Regions from separate parts of the Homo sapiens genome. Here region 1 is linked to region 2. Evidence: fine-mapped expression QTL. A gene starts in region 2. The other region holds a variant in brackets. All regions are shown on one strand. Distances are between the middles of the regions. Region 1 has its middle 12 kb from the start of LCN15. Region 2 holds the start of LCN10 (lipocalin 10).

Region 1 (10,691 bases), 35 kb before region 2:
AATTTGGTGGAAAGACAACAAAAATAAGACATGGGAAATAGGGAAGGTGGTAACGTGAGGGAGAGGTTTTGCTTGTGTTTCACCAGGAGAAAATCAGCTTCCTGTTTGGATACCCACTAGACATTTAAAGTTCTACAATGAACCCATCGGAGATGCAAAGAAAAACGCCTCCGTGGAGACAGAGACACCGCAATTGAGCACCATTGACTCGCCAGATGAACAGAATGGTGATATTAAAAGAACAAATTTTTGAAGCATCAAAAGCCCATTTAAATTTGGTACCAGGAACTGAGGCAATTGCGGGAGTTGCTGATGGCCTCACAAGTCTCTCTCTCTCTCTTTTTTTTAGACGGAGTCTCACTTTGTCGCCCAGGCTGGAGTGCAGTGGCACTATCTCGGCTCACTGCAAGCTCCACCTCCCAGGTTCATGCCATTCTCCTGCCTCAGCCTCCTGAGTAGCTGGGACTACAGGCGCCTGCCACCACGCCCAGCCAATTTTTTTGTATTTTTTTAGTAGAGACAGGGTTTCACTCTGTTAGCCAGGATGGTCTCAATCTCCTGACCTCGTGATCCACCCACCTTGGCCTCCCAAAGTGCTGGGATTACAGGCGTGAGCCACCGTGCCCAGCCGGCCTCACAAGTCTTAACCCTGTCACTTGGGTTAAAACCCTCGGAAGTTCCGCTATCGTAAATTTCGTGTTAATGCTTCTGTCTGTTGTCAGTCTGCAGCTGTACCCAACAGCTCCGAAGAGACAGCGACCATCGAGAATGGGCCATGATGATGATGGTGGTTTTGTCAAAAAGAAAAGGGGGAAATGTGGGGGAAAGAGAGGTCAGACTGTTACTGTGTCTATGTAGAAAAAGGAAGACATAAGAAACTCCATTTTGATCTGTATTAAGAAAAATTCTTCTGCTTTGACATGCTGTTAATCTGTAACCTTAGCCCCAACCCTGTACTCACAGAAACATGTGCTGTGTTAACTCAAGGTTTGAGGGATTTAGGGCTATACAGCATGTGCTTTGTTAACAATGTGTTTGCAGGCAGTATGCTTGGTAAAAGTCATCGCCATTCTCCATTCTCCATTAACCAGGGACACAGTGCACTGCGGAAAGCCGCAGGGACCTCTGCCCAAGAAAGCCTGCGTATTGTCCAGGTCTCCCCCCACTGAGACAGCCTGAGATATGGCCTCATGGGAAGGGAAAGACCTGATCGTCCCCCAGGCTGACACCCATAAAGGGTCTGTACTGAGGAGGATTAGTGAAAGAGGAAGGCCTCTTTGCAGTTGAGATAAGAGGAAGGCATCTGTCTCCTGCTCATCCCTGGGAATGGAATGTCTTGGTGTAAAGCCCAATCATACATTCTGTTTACTGAGATAGGAGAAAACTGCCCCATGGCTGGAGGTGAGACATGCTGGCGGCAATACTGCTCTTTACTGCACTGAGAGGTTTGTGTAAAGTCAGACATAAACCTGGCCTACGTGCACATCCAGGCACAGCACCTTTCCCTAAACTTATTTATGACACAGAGTCCTTTGCTCATGTTTTCCTGCTGACCCTCTGCCCACCATTACCCTATAGTCCTGCCATGTCCCCCTCACCGAGATAGTAGAGCTAGTGATCAATAAATACTGAGGAACTCAGAGACCAGCGTCGGTGCAGTTCCTCACTTGCTGAGTGCCGGTCCCCTGGGCCCACTTTTCTTCCCTTATACTTTGTCTTTGTGTCTTATTTGTTTTCTCAGTCTCTCATCTCCACCTGGTGAGAAATACCCGCAGGTGTGGAGGGGCAGGTCCCCTTCATAATTTCATAAGACTATAACTAGAGCTATGCTAAAGCTTCATATTTCATGAGGGCATCTAAAATGCCTATCCAAAGAACAGGTGCTTCTCTTCTTCTATCCATTTATGCGGTAGTTTTCATGCATTTCTGGCTGAATGTCACAGACAAAAGCCAAGAGGTTATCCCAGACTTCATCCCTGTTGTGAGGAAAGTAGGTCTGGAGGATGGTCATCTTCTCCTGGGTCTCCTTCTCCACTTTGGTGCTGCCAGTGCCATGGATTCCAGTGCCGCAGCTTCCTTGGCTTTCAACTCTTTCTCCCTCTGCAGGTGGTACTGTTCAATTTCAGCCTGAGCTGCTTCTTTGGCCTGTGTCAGCCTCCAGTTCTTTCTTTTTTTTTTGAGACGGAGTCTCGCTCTGTGGCCCAGGCTGGAGTGTAGTGGCAGCGATCTTGGCTCACTGCAACCTCTACCTCCCAGGTTCAAACAATTCTCTGCCTCAGCCTCCTGAGTAGCTGGGACTACAGGTGCATGCCAGCATGTTGCAGGAAGTCAGGGACCCCGAATGGAGGGACCAGCTGGAGCCGCAGCAGAAGAACACAAATTGTGAAGATTTCATGGACATTTGTCAGTTCCCAAATAATACTTTTACAATTTCTTATGCCTGTCTTTACTTTAGTCACTTACTCCTGTTATCTTTGTAAACTGAGGATGTAAGTCACCTCAGGACCACTGTGATAATTGTGTTAACTGTACAAATTGATTGTAAAACATGTATGTTTGAACAATATGAAATCAGTGCACCTTGAAAAAGAACAGAATAACAGCAATGTTTAGGGAACAAGGGAAGACAACCATAAGGTCTGACTGCCTGCAGGTTCGGGCAAAAAAAGCCATATTTTTCTTCTTGCAGAGAGCCTATAAATGGACATGCAAGTAGGAGAGACGGGGAGGAGATGGTGTTGTTGTTCTAGTTTGAGGGTCGCAGAGCTGGAGACCTGAGGAGGAGCCGGTGTTGATCTAGTTTGAGCATTGGGGAGCTGGAGACCCTGGAGGAGCTGGTGTTGATCCAGTTTGAGGGTCGGGGAGCTGGAGACCTGAGGAGGAGCCGGTGTTGATCTAGTTTGAGGGTTGGGGAGCTGGAGACCCTGGAGGAGCTGGTGTTGATCTAGTTTGAGCATTGGGGAGCTGGAGACCCTGGAGGAGCCAGTGTTGATCTAGTTTGAGCGTTGGGGAGCTGGAGACCCTGGAGGAGCTGGTGTTGATCTAGTTTGAGGGTCACGGAGCTGGAGGCCTGGGGAGGAGCCAGTGTTGATCCAGTTTGAGGGTCGGGGAGCTGGAGACCCTGGAGGAGCTGGTGTTGATCCAGTTGGAGGGTCACGGAGCTGGAGACTGAGGAGGAGCCAGTGTTGATCCAGTTTGAGGGTCGGGGAGCTGGAGACCCTGGAGGAGCCAGTGTTGATCCAGTTTGAGGGTCGGGGAGCTGGAGACCCTGGAGGAGCCGGTGTTGATCCAGTTTGAGAGTTGGGGAGCTGGAGACCCTGGAGGAGCTGGTGTTGATCCAGTTTGAGGGTCGGGGAGCTGGAGACTCTGGAGGACCTGGTGTTGATCCAGTTTGAGGGTCGGGGAACTGGAGACCCTGGAGGAGCTGGTGTTGATCCAGTTTGAGGGTCGGGGAGCTGGAGACTGAGGAGGAGCCGGTGTTGATCCAGTTTGAGGGTCACGGAGCTGGAGACTGAGGAGGAGCCGGTGTTGATCCAGTTTGAGGGTTGGGGAGCTGGAAACCCTGGAGGAGCCGGTGTTGATCCAGTTTGAGGGTCGGGGAGCTGGAGACCCTGGAGGAGCTGGTGTTGATCCAGTTTGAGGGTTGGGGAGCTGGAGACCTGGGAGGAGCTGGTGGTGTTGTTCTAGTTTGAGGTTCACAGAGCTGGAGACCTGGGGAGGAGATGGTGTTGTTCTAGTTTGAGGATTGCAGAGCTGGAGGCCTGGGGAGGAGCCAGTGTTTTTCTAGTTTGAGGGTCCTGGACCTGGAGATTTGAGGAGGAGCTGGTGTTGTTCTAGTTTGAGGTTAGTGGAGCTGGAGAATCGGGGTGGTGCCAGTGTTTTCTAGTTTGAGGGTTATGGAGCTGGAGACCAGGGGAGAAGCTGGTGGTGGTGTTCTAGTTTAAGGGTCATGGAGCTGGAGGCCTGGGGAGGAGCCAGTGTTGTTCTAGTTTGAGGGTCGTGGAGCTGGAGAACTGAGGAGGAGCTGGTGTTGTTCTAGTTTGAGAGTCATGGAACTGGAGACTTGGAGAGGAGCTGGTGTTATTCTAGTTTGAGGGTTGTGGAGCTGGAGACCAGAGAAGGAGCTGGTGTTGTTCTAATTATAGGGTCATGGAACTGGAGAATCAGGGAGGTGCCAGCGTTGTTCTAGTTTGAGGGCTGTGGAGCTGGAGACCTGGGGAGAAGCTGGTGTTGTTCTAGTTTGAGCGTTGTGGAACTGGAGACCCAGGGAGAAGCTGGTGGTGTTGTTCTAGTTTGAAGGTGGTGGAGCTGGAGACCTGGGGAGAGGCTGGTGCTGCTGTTGTAGTTTGAGGGTCATGGAACTGGAGGCGGGGAGGAGCCGGTGCTGTTGCGCTTCATGTCTGAGGGTTATATAGCTGGAAACCCAGGGAGAAGCCGGTATTACCGCTTTTAAAGTCTGAAGGTCGTGGAGCCTGAGGCCCAGGGAGGAGCCGGTGCTGCTCTTCAAATGGACCCTCCCGAGGTCTCCAGCTCCATGACCGTCAAACTACAACAGCAGCACCAGCTCCACCCTGGGTCTCCAGATCCACGACCCGCAAACTGGAACAGCAGCACTGACTCCTCCCCGGGTCTCCAGCTCCATGACCCTCAGACTCGTTCTAGTTTCTGTTTCAACTTTCTGTTGTCTTTTTGAGACAGGGCTCTGTTGCCTCGGCTGTAGTTTTGAACTTTGATGTGAAGGAATTCTCCTGGGTGGCTGCTCCTACACTGCGTTGGGTCTGAGTATCTGCTTGATGTCTATTTCTGTCCTCCATTCTCTCCCTGAGACCCACCCACATTGACATGGTTCATTTTCATTGCTGCGTGATCTCCCGTCTCCATTCTCTTCCTGAGACCCACCCACACTAACATGAGTCTTTTTCATTGCTGCACGATCTCCCGCCGTCTGAGGGGAGCATGGGAAATGTCTTCATCTTCCTGTGGACGAGAGTTCAGCCAGGCTGGGGCCCTGAGGACTGTGCTGCTGGGAATGCTCTTGGGCCTTTCTTTTGTACACAGGTGCACATTTCTCCTGGTCAGTAGCTTTCAGTTTTTACAATTTCATCCCAGGTAAGAAATGTAATTTTCCTCATAACCCACAAAACACACCCTTTCATATGCAGGGATACCAAAAACAATTTCACATCATTCTTAGCAGTGGCTGAGGGTTCCTATTGCTCTCCATTCTTCCCAATCCTTGCATTGATTGGGCTGTGGGATTTTTGCTGTCTGGTGGGTGACACGTGATCCTCATCCTGTTAGCTGAGACCCTCTTCATGTTTTTATTGCCCTTTCCTTCACATTTCCTTTTCTGTGAAGGGCTGGTTCAACTCTTTTTTTTTTGAGACGGAGTCTGACTCTGTCACCTAGGCTGGAGTGCAGTGGCACAATCTTGGCTCACTGCAAGCTCCACCTCCTGGGTTCAAGCAATTTTTCTTCCTCAGCCTCCTGAGTAGCTGGGACTACAGGCATGCACCACCACGCCCAGCTAATTTTTTGTATTTTTAGTAGAGAGAGGGTTTCACAATATTGGCCAGGCTGGTCTCGAACTCTTAACCTCGTGATCCGCCCGCCTCGGCCTCCCAAAGTGCTGGGATTACAGGTGTGAGTCACTGTGCCCAGCCAGG[T/G]CTGGTTCAACTCTTTTGCCCAGTTTCCGTTTAGTTGTCTGAATTTTTGCCTTTTTATTTTTTCATTTTTTTTTTTTGAGATGGAGTCTTGCTCTGTCGCCCAGGCTGGAGTGCCGTGGCACGATCTCGGCTCACTGCAAGCTCTGTCTCCCGGGTTCATGCCATTCTCCTGCCTCAGCCTCCAGAGTAGCTGGGACTACAGGCGCCCGCCACCACGCCTGGCTAATTATTATTATTACCATTATTTTGTATTTTTAGTAGAGACGGGGTTTCACCATGTTAGCCAGGATGGTCTTGATCTCCTGACATCGTGATCCGCCCACCTCGGCCTCCCAAAGTGCTGGGATTACAGGCGTGAGCCACAGCACCTGGCACCTTTTTCTTTTATTATTATTATTTGAGACGGAGTCTCATTCTGTCATCCAGACTGGAGAGCAATGGCACAATCTTCGCTCACTGTGGCCTCTGCCTTCCGGGTTCAAGCGATTCTCCTGCCTCAGCCTCCAGAGTAGCTGGGATTACAGGCGTGAGCCACCATGCCCAGCCAATTTTTGTATTTTTAGTAGAGGTGGAGTTTCACCATGTTGGCCAGGCTGGTCTGGAACTCCTGACCTCAGGTGACCTGCCTGCCTCAGCTTCCCAAAGTGCTGGGATTACAGATGTGAGCCACCGCACCTGGCCTGCCTTTTTCTTTTTCAAGAGGACTCTTTATAGATTATGCCCATTCATTCTGATGACTATCTGTGTGGCAAAGATGGGTTTGAATCCACCAGGATGAACCTGCAGGATCCCCTTTCTGGGGTGGGAGAGGAGACAGAGAGGGGTAGAGGGGCATGGAGAATCAGAGCCGAGAGGAGGCTGAGTCAGGCGGGGACTGCAGGCTGCTGTGAGGACATGGCTCCTCCTCTGAGCCAGGTGGGATTAGCAGGGGATTTTACCCAGAGGAGGCATGGGGTCTCCCTTATGTATTTCTGCCATGGTTGGCTCAGTTGAACTCACCTTTTGAACAAGACTTGGCCTTGGCCACCCAGAGGCCCCTGGCCAAGAGCTTGACTCCTGGCACGGCCACTGACACATCCATGTTTGGTGCACACATGGCTGGGCAGCCCCGAGACCGGCTCTGCCTGGGCCTCTCATTGGTGGCATTGCTCGCATTTGTCCCCTCCCAAGTCTGGCCTATTTATGAGCCTCATCACACCTCGGCATGAAGAAGGAGGTTTGGCAAATAACCCATAAAGCATCTTTTAAAAGGTTAATGGTCACTGTTGTGGGGAGAAAGGGCCACTGAGCTTGGATGCTCTCTTTGCTGATGTGGTTTTCTCAATTAAGTGAAAATAAAGAGCCATGCCTCTTTGCACGTACCTGGTCTGATTACCAAGCAGCCCAGGAGGCCTCGGGGTGTCTTGGAAGCTGGAACCATCAGCCCTGTGTGAACTACAGGCGCTTCTATATAAGCTGCTCCCAGGTGAGGGGAGCGGGTCAGGTGATCCCAAGCTCCGCTTCCTGCTCGACATGAGTGAGCTGTGTGTGCAGAGTTGGTTGTGGAGGAATCCCACGGTCTGGCCAGTCACCTGCAGGAGGGCAGGGTTGATGCTGTTCTCATATTCATCATCCACAGTGCCTGGCACTTGCTCCAGGCCATGGCAGGCGTACAGGTGTCCAACTGATCTTAGATAATGAGGGACCTGCTCCGCAGCCCTGAGGGTAGGAGGGAAGTCAGCTTGAGAGCTTTCCTGGGTCATGCCTCACCTAACTTACATGGCGTTTCCAGGAGAGAGGGCTACTGGCGGTGTCTGTGTATCAGTCAGGATGAGTAACAGCAGCTGCTACAACAACAGCTCCCAACGCTCAGAGGGATGCACACGAGGATTCTTTCCTGCTCTTGTCACAGTCTCACGACACTAAAGATATGTGTCAGTCCACCTGCATTGCTATAAAGGAATACCTGAGGCTGGGTTAATTAGGGGTGGGGCAGTTCCCCTGAAAGGACTGTTAGGAGACAAGTACCTGTGACTGTGATGTGCATCTTGCAAAGTCCTAAAGGGAAGTGGGTCAAATTAGCTTTCTCCAGCAGACAGGGAGGGGCACCCACGGCAAAATCCCTTCACCTGGGAGCAGGTGTGGTCCTTGAGTCCTATGTTGCCTGTTTCTTCCTCCATCTTGACCTGCAGGCCTGATGTGATCTGACCTCTGCCTGCCTCTCTGACTCCATCTCCCCTCCCGCTCCTGTTCTTTCTACCAATTAGGTTACAGCCTCGGTGAATGTGACAAGGACCCTGAATCACGGTGGCTTAACTAAGACAGAGGTTCATTCCCTTCACATGAAAGTCCAAGGCAGTCGGGAGATTCTTCTCTATGCAGTTTTTAGGGTCTTAGCCTCCTTCCATCTTGCTGTTCTGACTTCCTTAGGGTGTAGCTTCCCCCTGAGAGTCCACCCTGTCTCCTGCCAGCCAGCAGGGAGAGGAGAAGGGGACAACAGGGCACAAAACTTCCTTCCTCTAAAGGCAGCCGCTGTGCACAGGCCTCGCCTCCCCATTGGCCACAGCCTGGTCACATGGCCACTGCTTGCTGCAAGGGATGCTGGGAAGTGTAGTCTTCATCCTGGATGCCAGTGCCCACATGGGTCCCTCCTGAGGCCGAGGGGAGAGAGGACATGGGAGAGAGTTTCTGGTCTCCCCCGCCCTGGGGTCAGGGTTGACTCCCCGGGTGATGGTTGTTCTTGTGTGTTGACTGCGTCTACACATCAGTTCCACTATATTGTGTGTCTGTTCTGGTGAGGTCTGGATGCCTCCAGGCCTGAGCAGGAGAAACCAGCAACAGGATTTGTTTTGTTTTGCTGAATCTAGGATCACATTGTTGCAGGAAGTAGCTGGCAGCTAATGATGGCTGTTGCTGGGGGATCTGCTGGCCTGTAAACCAGGGTGTTCATGTGGCTGCTTGGGCTTCCTTTCAACATGGCTGCCTCTGAGCAGTTGTACTTCTCATGTGCCAGTGGACTTCGAAGACACAGGAAGTAGCAGTCTCCAGGCCAGTTTAGCAGTTTCCAGCAGTTTCCAGGCCACTCCCGAACTGGCACAGCATCCCTTCCACTGTATTCAATTGGCCAAAGTATAACAGTAAAACAGTAGAACTAACATAACTCACTCCGTTTGTGTTCAAGGGGCCTTTACCCATCCTGCACGTAGGCTAGGATAATTTCGGAGCACTGAGATAATATGGAAAAACAGTAATCATGTAGTTTTAAAAACTAACTCTGAGGTTGAAAGTATATAAACAACTAACAATATTTTATTAAATATGTGTAAAAGCATTGCGACCTGACTAAGGACAAAGAAGTTCCCAACCTCCTCAGACTTGCTGGTGCCCAGATGTCTGAGATGTCTGTGCTCATAGGCCACTTCTTTTTTTTTTTTTTTTTTTTTTGACAAGGTCTATCACCCAGGCTGGAGTGCAGTGGTGCCATCTCGGCTCACTGCAACCTCCACCTCCTGGGCTCAAGTCATCCTCCAACCTCAGCCTTCTGAGTAGCTGGGACTACAGGTGCACACCACCATGCTAGGCTAATTTTTGTATTTTTTGTAGAGACAGGGTTTTACCATGTTGCCCAGGCTGGTCTCGAACTTGTGAGCTCAAGTGGTCCACCTGCCCTGGCCTCCCAAAGTGCTGGGATTACAGGTTTGAGCCACCCCACCCAGATGTAGGTCACCTCTTTTTGAGACGGAGTCTTGCTCTGTCACCCAGGCTGGAGTGCAATGGCACCATCTCAGCTCACTGCAACCTCTGCCTCCTGTGTTCAAGTGATACTCCTGCCTCAGCCTCCAGAGTAGCTGGGAATACAGGCATGCGCCACTATGCCCGGCTAATTTTGTATTTTTAGTAGAGACGGTGTTTCTCCATGTTGGTCAGGCTGGTCTCGAACTCCCGACCTCAGATGATCTGCTCGCCTCGGCCTCCCAAAGTGGGAGTGTTGGGATTACAGGCGTGAGCCACCGCACCCGACTGTAGATCACTTCTTGATCCTAACCACCTTCTCTTTCTCTGCCCTTAACATAAAAAGAGCTTGAAATTTGTACCCACCTGAGATGGCACATTAGGACTCTAGTCCACCATCTTCTTGGTTTGCTGGCTGTCTGAATAAATTGCTTTCTTCCCACCAACTCCTGTCTCTTGAGTTTTGGCTTTTGAGCAGCTGAATGTGTGTTCGGTTACAAAAGCAGTCACAAGGTGCCCCTCCCGCCAAGATTTAAGGGGTGGAGAATTAAACTGTCACTTTGAAGAAGAGAGTTCAGGACTGCCCCTTCCACCCAAGACAGCAAACGGGCCAGTCCTTGAGCAGGTAGATGGGGAGGGGAGGTGGCAGAGCAGCCTGAGAGCTACAGCAGAGTGCTGGTGGGGAGGACCATGGGAGGGACCACAGACTCAAGAACTGTGTTGAGAAGGATTTCCAGGAGGCTGGGAATGGGCCTGTCTTCCCTGAAATTAGTATTTAGAGAGAATCTGGAAGAAAACCATGCTCTCAGAGTTAGGCTTTGGTGTGGAAATCAAACCTTTGCCTGCTACACTGTTTTCTTTTTTTTTTTTCTTTTTTCTTTTTTTTTGACACAGAGTCTTGCTCTGTCACCCAGGCTGGAGAGTGCAGTTGGCACTATCTTGGCTCACTGCAACCTCCGCCGCCTGGGTTCAAGTGATTCTCTTGCCTCAGCCTCCCCAGTAGCTGGGATTACAGGTGCCCACTACTATGTCCAGCTAATTTTTTTATATGTTTTTAGTAGAGACGAGGTTTCACCATGTTGGTCAGGCTGGTCTCGAACTCCTGATCCCAAAGTGCTGGGATTACAGGCGTAAGCCACCACGCCTGGCTAATTTTTTTGTATCTTTTTAGTAGAGACGGGGTTTCTCCATGTTGGTCAGGCTGGTCTCGACCTCCTGACCTCAGGTGATCTGCCCACCTTGGCCTCCCAAAGTGCTGGGATTACAGGCGTCAGCCACTGTGCCCTTCCTGTTACATTGTTTTCTGGATGGTGG
Region 2 (10,550 bases):
CCTCTCAGCAGGCCTTTTTCGGGAATTCTGTTTAAAGGAGGATAATGCATTCGGACCTAAGAACCACTGGTTCTTTCATAACATAAATCCCCAAACAATATGGTCATGGACGCTGTTGGCCAGACTGGCCTTGTGGCCTCAGGCAGGCGCACCCGACCACATGCATGGCTGGTGGCGGCGTGCAGGGGTCGGGTGGGCCAGGCTGTGGGGCGGCCGTGCTACACAGGGGACACCTACAGGGCAGCCGGGCTGTGGGGGTAGCCGTGCTGGGGCAGGAGTCGGTGCCCGCCTCCCTTCACAGAAGAGTGGCCTGCTGGGTGGCGTGGTGGGTGTCTACCCCCTGGCAGGCTGGCGACAGAGCCCAGGCCTGAACCACTGAGCCAGGTACGGGGCCCAGAGAGAAGAACCTGCCCTCCTCACCAGCGTGCCTTCCCCCTGCACCTGCGCCTGCAGGGTATGGGCAGGGGCCCCACTGCACCCCCCGGGCCAGGCCTGGCCTCAGGGCGAGCTGGGACCAAGGGGCTCCAGGCTGAGGTGGCAGCTCCCACGTGGCTTTCCTAGTTCTTCTTGCTGTTCCTCCCGCATGGACTCAGCCTCAGTTTCCTTCCTTGGCAAACACCATTGCACCTTTGCTGGGTTTTGCTCACTCTGGGGACTGACCACTTAGGGAGCGCCGGCCCCTTCCCCCGAGTCGCAGGCAAACCCCCACCCCGCCCCATCCTTCCCCTGAGTCGCAGGCGAACCCCCACCCCACCCCATCCTTCCCCTGAGTCACGGGCGAACCCCCACCCCGCCCCATCCTTCCCCTGAGTTGCGGGCGAACCCCCACCCCGCCCCATCCTTCCCCTGAGTCACGGGCGAACCCCCACCCCACCCCATCTTTCCCCCGAGTCGCGGGCGAACCTCCCGTCTGTCGAGTCTCCTGTTGTGTCCTCAGCAGCATTCAGCGTTCCTGGTGGAGATCTGGCACTGAGGATCTCTCAGGAAGTGAATGGGAGTGTCCGCCCCTCTCAGGACTCCCACGCCGTCCACTCTCCGAGAACAGGTTTCCGGGCATCGGGGCATCTGGCAGAAGATGGAAGCTCTGGCCTCACTGCTGGCTGGCCTGGCCTGGACTCCTGAGCTCCGTCTCCTCTCACCGGGCCCCGGGGTCTTGACCCTGAGTGGGTGACAGGCCCCTTCTTTTCCAGGCTGGGAGGGTGTGACCAGAGTGTCATGGACCTGATAAAGCGAAACTCCGGATGGGTGTTTGAGAATCCCTGTGAGTCTGACGGCCACGGCCTCACCCAGGCCGTTCTTCCCTGCAGCATCCCCAGGCCCCCTGCGGGCAGGGACGGAGGGCTGACTCCGCTCCCGAGAGCCAGGAGGCTACAGGTTCTGGTCTTGGGATTGCTGCCCATCCTGAGGGTGAAGAGAAGCCCCTGGACAGAGGATTGGAACCTTGTTCCCAGCAGGCTCAGACACCAGTGAGGTCCAGCCAAGGTCCCCATAGGTGCAGAGGGCGAGGGGCCTGTTTAGTGGCTGTCTACAGGTACAGGGCTGGGCTGGTGTGACCCAGCCGCTCCTCGTTCACACCTGGGACAGGCTGGGGCAGTGCTTGTCTGTCTGTCCGTCAGTGTCTGAAAGCCCCTTGATGCTGGCACCAGGTGGGGTCGGGGGTGGGGGACAAAGCTTGGGGGCTCTGGGTGTGCTTGGAGGGGTCTCCTGGGGAGGGGGGCTCTCACTTGAATTGGCCCCTCTGTCCCTGTGGCCAGCATCAGCTCAGCGGCCCCTGGATGGATACAGCAGCTGCCCTCCCCTGAGGCGGGGGGTTTTGTTTCCTAGCAATAGGCGTGCTGGAGCTCTGGGTGCTGGCCACCAACTTCAGAGACTATGCCATCATCTTCACTCAGCTGGAGTTCGGGGACGAGCCCTTCAACACCGTGGAGCTGTACAGTAAGTGTGCTGTGCGGGGCCCACGTAGGGAGCTGTGTGGTGCGTGGGCCACTCGGGGCCCACGTTGGGAGCTGTGTGGTGCGTGGGCCGCTTGGGGGCCGCGTGGGGAGCTGTGTGGTGAGTGGGCCGCTCGGGGGCCATGTGGGGAGCTGTGTGGTGAGTGGGCCGCTTGGGGCCACATGGGGAGCTGTGTGGTGAGTGGGCCGCTCGGGGGCCATGTGGGGAGCTGTGTGGTGGGTGGGCCGCACAGGACCACATGCAGGCCAAGTTCCCCCACCTTGAGGCTCGCTGCACTGGAGGTGGCTTTGGAAGGACCGGGGCCAGCATCCCAGGGCAGGTGGCCTCCTTCCTGACCCTTCCCAGCCCCTCCCCGGCCCCTCCCCAGCTCTCAGAGGTTGCTTCCCCCTGCACTGCCCTGGTGCCCCCAGGTCTGACGGAGACAGCCAGCCAGGAGGCCATGGGGCTCTTCACCAAGTGGAGCAGGAGCCTGGGCTTCCTGTCACAGTAGCAGGCCCAGCTGCAGAAGGACCGTGAGTGTCCACCGGAGCAGCCTCGGGGGAGGCTTGGGGCAAGTTCTGGAGCCCACAGGGCGTGATGGGGTGACAGAGACCCTGGGGTTGATTCTGGCTTCTGCCTGACTCAGTCGCCCTGAAGGAGTCAGGCAGGCTGAGGGGGTCTTCACCTGCCCCTGCCCAAAGTCAGGCCTGGGGGTCTTGTCCCCACGGCAGGCGAGTCTTGTGGGTGGGGCCCTGGGGTGCTGGGGGGCTCAGTCCTTTTTCACAGCCAGTCTTGCCTCCCCTTCTAGTCACCTGTGCTCACAAGATCCTTCTGGTAAGCCGCCATCCTGAGCCTCACCCTGGGCTCTCTTGGGGGAAGGGGGTGGGGGAGGCCACCCTACGCACAGTGGGTGGGAGGACCCTCTGCCCAAGCCCACGGGGTTCATGGCTCCACTGTCTCTAAGGCAGCTGAGGGTGTGGAGGAGCCTCCATGGTGGGCTGGGCCCCCTCACACTCCTCTTGGTTTTCAGTGAGTGCTGCGTCCCCAGTAGGGATGGCGCCCACAGGGTCCTGTGACCTCGGCCAGTGTCCACCCACCTCGCTCAGCGGCTCCCGGGGCCCAGCACCAGCTCAGAATAAAGCGATTCCACAGCAAACCAAGGATGCTTTTGACTGGGGGCCAGCCGGGGAATTGCGGGGAGGATGGCGGGGGTCGTCACCAAGGGCCAAGCCACAGAACCATAGAGCCAGCTGCAAAGAAGACGCGTGCCCAACCCAGTCCCTTGCCAGAGCCCCTCTGGGTCTTCAGACACCCAAACTCAGGCCCGGGCTCAGAGGCGGGGGCTGGTCAGAGGACACAGCCTGGGAGGAAGCCAGCAGTGAGCTCCACCAGGACCGCAGCTGGGGTGCCAGAGGCTCCAAGGACTGCCCAGGACAAGAGAGAGGTGGCTGGTGGGGCTCAGAGCAGCCCCTGACTCCCCAGGCTCAGGCTTCTCTGGGCTGGGGTTGTGTCTCTTGCCTGGGCAGGGGCAGGGACCCCAGACACCTGAGCCTGCAGGTCCTCCTGTGTTCTGATGGGTGTGGGGGGCTGCGCTGCCTGCCGTCCTGGGAGAAGCACAGGCCATGGGGGTCTCGGGGCTGGATGGGGGGCTGGGGACTGTGTGAGGCTCATGCTGGAGTGAGGCGAGGTGCACACAGATGCCTTGACCTGCAAGGCTGGGCATGCACACGCATGCACATGTGAGCACACACCCACACATGCACACACACACATTCATGGGCACGGGCACACAGCCCCGGCCCGCCCTTCGGCACCTGCTCAGGTGCTTGGTGCCAGGCCCTCAAGAAGGTGGTGGGGGCTGTGTGTGTGGCTGCCGCGCAGAGCTCACCATGTCCACATCTGCCCCAGAAGGGCCACGACCAGCCCTTTGCCTGTCACCTGGGAGGTCTAGGATGAGGGCCAGGGCTTAATGAGTCTCAGGGGCACACACAGTGACCCCAGGCCGGGCACTGAGGGCAGGAGGGTCCTGGGGCCTCAGAGGGGCCTCTGTCTGCCAGGGCAGCCCAGGCCAGCAGTGACCACCAGGTGGGGCAGTGCCGGCTTCCCTGGAGTGTCTGGGGGTGGTCCCTGGGCGGGGAGAGGGTAGCAGAGCCCAAGGCCACACCTGTTGCCTCCCTCCGCTCCCTCCCCTCCCTCCTCTCCCGACACAGGCTGGCGGCTCCAGAGAGGTTTAAACACTGGCCTTGGCGGCTGAGGGAGGAGGGTGAAGATGAGGCAGGGGCTGCTGGTGCTGGCGCTGGTGCTGGTGCTGGTGCTAGTGCTGGCTGCAGGGTCCCAGGTGCAGGAGTGGTACCCCAGGGAGTCCCACGCCCTCAACTGGAACAAGGTGAGCCATGTGCCACTGGTCCCTGAGCCGGGCGCCGGCTCTGGAGCTGGAGCAGGCTCCTGCACAGTCTCCCGGCAGCCGCCCAGGAGCAGGGCTACCAGCAGTTCCAGGCACGGGCGCTGCCCACCTGGCCTCTCCCACTGCAGCCTCCAGCACAGGGGCCCCGCAAGTTGCAGGGCAAAGGCAGGGAGCCTCGAGGGGGTTCGGGGGCCCAGGGGGGTCAGGGAGGGCCAGGGTGGAGGGGCCCAGAGAGCTGTGGCCGAGGAGGTCGGGAGACGCCCAGAGTGCAGAGTGGGTGTGGAGCAAGCGGGGCATATTCTGTAGCGGGAGGGCCCGGGCACCTGCTGAGTGAGCCGTGGGAGCAGCACTCATTGGCACGGCGGTGCCCAGGGCGCTAGGGTTGGCAGCAGGCAGAGTTGGGGGCCGGGGGCCGGCAGGAAGGGAAGTGGCCGAGCAGTACCCAGCCCCCAGGAGGCCATGTGGGAAGGAGCCGGGGCCTCTGAGGTAGGGGGCCTCCCACCTGCTGGCGCCCACAGCCCAGCCCTTTGCTGCCTGGGGTCCCTGACCAGCCGGGCACCTGCTTCTCTGCAGCCCTGCTCCAGTGGCCAGGGCTTGAGTGGCCGGGACCGAGGCGGCACCTGGGCGGAGCTGGGACTCCGGCTCACAGAAGGGTCATTTGTCTCCTGGGTTCTCTAGCTGGGAACCTCGGGGGTGGGGACAGCCCCCGGTGGCAGCTCCTGTCCCCGCCCACACATCCGCTGCGCAGTTTTCAGGGTTCTGGTACATTCTGGCCACTGCCACTGATGCCCAGGGATTCTTGCCGGCCAGGGACAAGAGGAAGCTGGGGGCGTCCGTGGTAAAGGTGAACAAAGTGGGCCAGCTCCGCGTGCTCCTCGCCTTCAGACGGTGAGTGGGCAGCGCCCCCCAGGCAAGGGTCTCCCCTTCCAGGAGGAGGGAGCTGCCTCGGGGCTGGAAAGGAGTCTGGGAGGAGCCTGTCTGTCTGGAAGTTCCACAAGAACCGTCCCCCCACTTCCTCCCCCTAAACTCAGAGGAAGCCACCTGCAGCCCCTGGGACCCCACATGGGTGGGTGTTGGGAGGAAGCTGCCTGCAGACCTTGGGACCCCACATGGGTAGGTGTTGGGAGGAAGCCGCTTGCAGCTCCTGGGCCCCACACGGGTGGGTGTTGGGAGTTTCTCTCGTGCCGTGGGACAGGCCCCAGTCCGAATTGGAAAATCCTCAAACCACAGAGCCTCAGATTGACACGAGTTGGATAGTGAAGCAAAAAACTGGGGACCTGGGGCCCCAACCTTCCCGGGTCCCACGGGAGCAGGGGCGGGACCGAGACGTGTGGGTGGGGCTCGGTGGCTGGCAGGCGGGAGGAGGGGTTCCCTGGTCTGCAGCCTGAGCCCCCGCCTTGGCCCCAGGTTGAAGGGGTGCCAGTCCCAGGAGGTGATCCTGAGGAAAGACGGGAAGAAGCCGGTGTTTGGGAACGCCTGTGCATACGCGGCGGGCCCGAGGGAAGGACAGGAGGGAGGTGTGCTTGGGCTCTGGGCCCTGGAGGAGCTGCGTGATATGCCTCTGACCCCCCTGTGCCTTGAGCAGGCCCCTTGTCCCCGAGAGCACGTGGCAGGCAGGCGTCAGGCTGGCTGTGTTCCCAGAGCCCACACGTCATGTGCTGGGCGGCCTGGCCCGGGAGGGGAGGCCCCGGGAGGGCACTCAGTCCCTCTGGACACCTGCACCTGGGTGGGGGCTCTGAGGCCTCGGGCACCAGGGGTCAGGGCTGTGGGCGGGCACAGCCACGCCATCCGGGAACCAGCGGGCATCTCTGGGCATCTCTTTCAGTGAAAGGGGTGAAGGCCTTCCACGTGCTGTCCACTGACTACAGCTACGGCTTGGTCTACCTCCGCCTGGGGCGTGCAACCCAAAACTACAAGAACCTGCTGCTCTTCCGTGAGCAGGCACAGCGGATGGCAGAGGATGGTGGAGGGGGTGCAGAGGGAGGCATAGAGGGGCGCTGGGCACAGGGGGCCGGGCAGGAGGTGAGGCGGGCAGGGAGAGTGGGGGTTGGGGCGGTGGTCAGGGCAGGGGCAATGGAAGCCGAGACCACAGCAGTCAGGTCCTGGAGGTCGCTGAAGCAAGGATAGGGGACGTCAGGAAGAGGCTGCAGAGAAAGGTGGGCCATCCAGGGGGAGCGGAGGCCACCAGGATGGTGGCGGGTGCAGGTGCAACGTTCTGGGTGAGGGACACAGTGGGGATGAGGAGGCGTGGGAGGGGTCCCAGGTAAGGGTCTGCCCGGGATGGAGGGGTGTGGAAGTGACCCAGTGTGGGTTAAGGGCCACAAACCCAATTCTAGACACCAACCACTTGGGGTACACGGAAAGGAGTGGCCCTCCCGGTTGGAACGGGTAGAGGGGAGGTGGGGTCCTGGGGTCTCAGTCGAGGCAGGGCACGCTCAGGGTGCAGCAAGCTGGGGCACAGCTGAGGGGCTGGCTGGAGGGGACTCTGCAGGCAGAGAGGGTTCCCCAGGTGACAGCGTGGTGACCCTGGCTTCCCGAGCCTGGCTGCCTCGTAAGTGGGGAGGGGCCCAGCGGCCGCTGTCCTCCCCTGGCCAACCCCTGCTTCACGCCTAAGCTCTGAGGACATTTCAGCAGCTCCTGGGGTAGGGATGGGGGTCAGGGTGCAGACCCTAAAATGGCCAGAGCTGGAGTCTCTGATGTGATCCTGATCTCAACCTCAGATAGGCAGAATGTTTCGAGCTTCCAGAGTCTGAAGGAATTCATGGACGCTTGTGACATTCTGGGGCTCTCCAAGGCCGCCGTCATCCTCCCGAAAGACGGTAAGCTGTGCCCTCAGCCCTTTGCCCTCCTGGCCCTACCTGCCCGTCCCATTGGGGAGCTGATTCATTGGGGGAAGGAGAGATGAAAGGATCCATTTGAAAGGTGCCATTTGAAAGATCCGCCCAAACGTGCCTCCCACCTCCTGCCGCCCCTGAGAATCGGGGCTTGGCCTGGCAGGCCTGGCACCGACAGCGAGAGGCGTCCGGAGCAGATGCTGCATCCGACCAGGCGATGCCGTGGCTGTGGCTGCAGGATCGGGGGCTGCATGGCTGTGTTCTCGTGGTGCCCAAGACGAGCACGCATGGAACCAGGGAGCGGCCGGGGGAGACGTGTTCACGGCTCATGTGTCTCCTCCAAGCAGCCAGCCCACATGTGGCTGTTTTCCTCTCCCACAGCGTCCCGTACACACACCATCCTGCCATGAGAGCCAGCGTCCTCTGCTCTTCCCTTTCGACGCGTGGTCCTCCCAGACCCGAGGAGCGTTGTTCCAGATGTCAAGTGGAGACCACGGCTTGTTGAGAGGTGTTTGGTGACTCTAGGTCATTGACAGTGTGAAAATCAAGTGGCTCAAGGGATCCTTTATGATCACAGAAAGATGGGGGAAGGAGGATACAGGCTGACCGGGTGGCGAGATGTCAGCCAGGCCCCTTCCCCACTGTCTTCTGGAGCACACTGCAGGCTGCTGCTATTCCCTGTCTGCTGTGAAACAGACCACAGGCCGGCCCAACGCAGTCCTCGCCGTGTGCCTTGCCTCTGCCCTCCACGCCGCCGCCACCCTCCGCGTTCCTTTACATCCTGCACTTTCTCAGGAAGCCGTTCGCATATCCACCCAACATGGAGGAGCCCCCATGACGTGCCAGGCAGCGTGCTGGCCCCTGCGGCTGCGTTAGGGAACAGAATCGGCAAACGCAGTCCCAGAGTTGATGCCTGATCAGGAGAAGCCAACTTCAGCAGTGTGGTCACCTGGATACTCGAGTATAGACCCTAGATCACCTGGATACTCGAGTATAGACCCTAGAAGTGTATCTAGGCGCGGCCAGGGCCCCACAACAGCAGGTCTGACTCATTCCATCCAGGGCAGCATCAGGGAGAGCTTCCTGGGGGAAGTGGCATTTGGGCTGACCTGGGAAGGGTGGTGGGTGTTAAGTCAGTTTGGGTGGGGCTGGAGGAGCAGGGGTGCATCCCCAGAACAGGATGTGACTTCTGAAAAGACATCAGAGTAGAGAAAATGGTTTCTCAAGGAGATTGGGGACGCCAGTATCAGAATGGCGGCGGGGAGAGCCACAGAGGAGCAGGAGGGGGCCCACCAGACCACGGCACCTCGAAGGCTGCGGTGAAGGCTTAGGTCTCACTCAAGGGGTGATGACGGGAGGTTGTCTGAGATGAACCCCCCAACTGAATGAATGGACCTTCTTCTGGCCAAGGGGATCCCAAAGAAACCCTGAACCCGAGTCCTCAGCCATGACGGGGTAAGGGGTCAGCCCCTCCTTCTGGCCCGAGAAGAGATCAGAGATTGGTTCTGGGCAGTCCATGGAGAATTTGCTCAGCTGGACCAGTACACGCTTCTCCTTTCATGAATATTCATGACTCCTCCTGAAGCTTATTGAACATCTCTATTTGGCCATCTCCTTCAGCGTAAATTCCTGTCCCCTCTGTCCCTCCCCTCCAAGTGTCTGTTCCAGGCTTCTGGCCTGAGGCTACGCTTCCTAGCCTGTCAGAAGGGCTGCCCTGCTGGCTGCAATCTCTTATGAGAAATAAAGCTCTCCTGTGTGCAAAAAAGTAGTTTGGAGCCCGGGCAACATGTTGAGACTTCATCTCTACAAAAAATACAAAAATTAGCTGAGCGTGGTGGTGGGCGCCTGTAGTCCTAGCTACTCAGGAGGCTAAGGTGGGAGGATTGCTTGAGCCTGGGAGGTTGAGTGAGTCAGGATCGTGCCACTGCACTCCAGCCCGGGCAACAGAGTGAGACTGTCTCAAAAAACATATATATATGCCAGGCATGGTGGCTCACACCTGTAATCCCAGCACTTTGGGAGGCTGAAACGGGCGGATCATGAGGTCAAGCAATCGAGACCATCCTGGCCAATATGGTGAAACCCCGTCTCTGTTAAAAAATACAAAAAATTAGCCAAACGTGGTGGTACACGCCTGTAATCCCAACTATTCAGGAGGCTGAGGCAGAAGAATTGCTTGAACCCAGGAGGCGGAGGTTGCAGTGAGCTGAGATCACACCATTGCACTCCAGCCTGGTGACAGAGCGAGACTCTGTCTCAAAAAAAATTATATATATATATATGAGATATATATATAATATATAATATAATATAATATAATATTATATATATATAGTATATATTATGACATATATATAAAAGGCTGGGCGCCTGTAATCCCAGCACTTTGGGGGGCTGAACCAGGTGAATCACTTGAGTTCAGGGGTTCGAGACCAGCCTGACCAACATAGAGAAAAACTGTCTCTACTAAAAATACAAAGTTAGCCATGCGTGGTGGCACATGCCTATAATCCCAGCTACTCGGGAGGCTGAGGCAGGAGAGTAGCTTGAACCCGGGAGGCGGAGGTTGTGGTGAGCCGAGATCATGCCATTGCACTCCAGCCTGGGCAACGAGAGTGAAATTCCATCTCAAAAAAAAAAAAAAAAAAATACAGCCGGGCATGGTGGCTCACACCTGTAATCCCAGCACTTTGGGAGGCCGAGATGGGTGTATCACGAGGTCAGGATTTCAAGACCAGCCTGGCCAAGATGCTGAAACCCTGTCTCTACTAAAAAAAACAAAAATCAGCCAGGTGCGGTGGCGGGTGCCTGTAATCCCAGCTACTCGGGAGGCTAAGGCAGGAGAATCGCTTGAACCCAGGCAGCAGAGGCTGCAGTGAACCGAGATCGCTCCACTGCACTCCACTGGGCGACAGAGCAAGACTCTAGCTCAAAAAAAAAAAAAAAATACAGGCTGGGTGTGGTGGCTCACGCCTGTAATCCCAGCACTTTGGGAGGCCCAGGCGGGCGGATCACGAGGTCACAAGTTTGAGACCAGCCTGGCCAACATGGTGAAACCCCGTCTCTACTTAAAATACAAAAATTAGCCAGGCATAGTGGCAGGTACCTGTAATCCCAGCTACTCGGGAGGCTGAGGCAGGAGAATCACTTGAACCTGGGAGGTCGAGGTTGCAGTGAGCTGAAATCATGCCACTGCACTCCAGCCTGGGTAACAGAGCAAGGCTCTGTCTCAAAAAAAAAAAAAAAGAAAGAAAGAAAGAAAGAAACTCCAGGATTTAGATGTAGCAGGTGTGGTGCACGCACTCGTGGTGACCGCTCCTCAGGAGGCTGAGGTGGGAGGATGGCTGGAGCCCAGGGGGTCAAGGCTGCTGTGAGCCGAT

The links. PIP is the estimated chance that this variant, and not a neighbour inherited with it, causes the effect.
Region 1: its variant is fine-mapped to the expression of LCN10 in subcutaneous fat (GTEx, PIP 0.96).

The regions. Positions count from the first base shown.
Region 1 is chr9:136,771,422-136,782,112 of GRCh38, reverse strand. It overlaps the pseudogene ATP6V1G1P3. Among named protein-coding and RNA genes, the nearest start is that of LCN15, 12 kb to the right of the region's middle. RefSeq lists an enhancer at 8,062-8,356. The variant T/G (reference allele first, on the strand shown) is at 5,667.
Region 2 is chr9:136,736,555-136,747,104 of GRCh38, reverse strand. It overlaps LCN10 (lipocalin 10), which reads left to right and starts at 4,165. Exons shown (of 6, transcript NM_001001712.3): 1 at 4,165-4,318; 2 at 5,085-5,224; 3 at 5,744-5,853; 4 at 6,162-6,269; 5 at 7,057-7,155; 6 at 7,552-8,935. The coding sequence starts at 4,202. The coding sequence ends at 7,580. It overlaps LCN6 (lipocalin 6), which reads left to right. Exons shown (of 7, transcript NM_198946.3): 3 at 1,191-1,261; 4 at 1,825-1,935; 5 at 2,364-2,465; 6 at 2,741-2,766; 7 at 2,963-3,088. The coding sequence ends at 2,443. MIR6722 (microRNA 6722) reads left to right here and starts at 135; the gene lies at 135-212. It overlaps LOC100128593 (a long non-coding RNA gene), which reads right to left and starts at 944. Exons shown (of 3, transcript NR_033913.1): 1 at 904-944; 2 at 1-27. RefSeq lists a silencer at 4,661-4,760.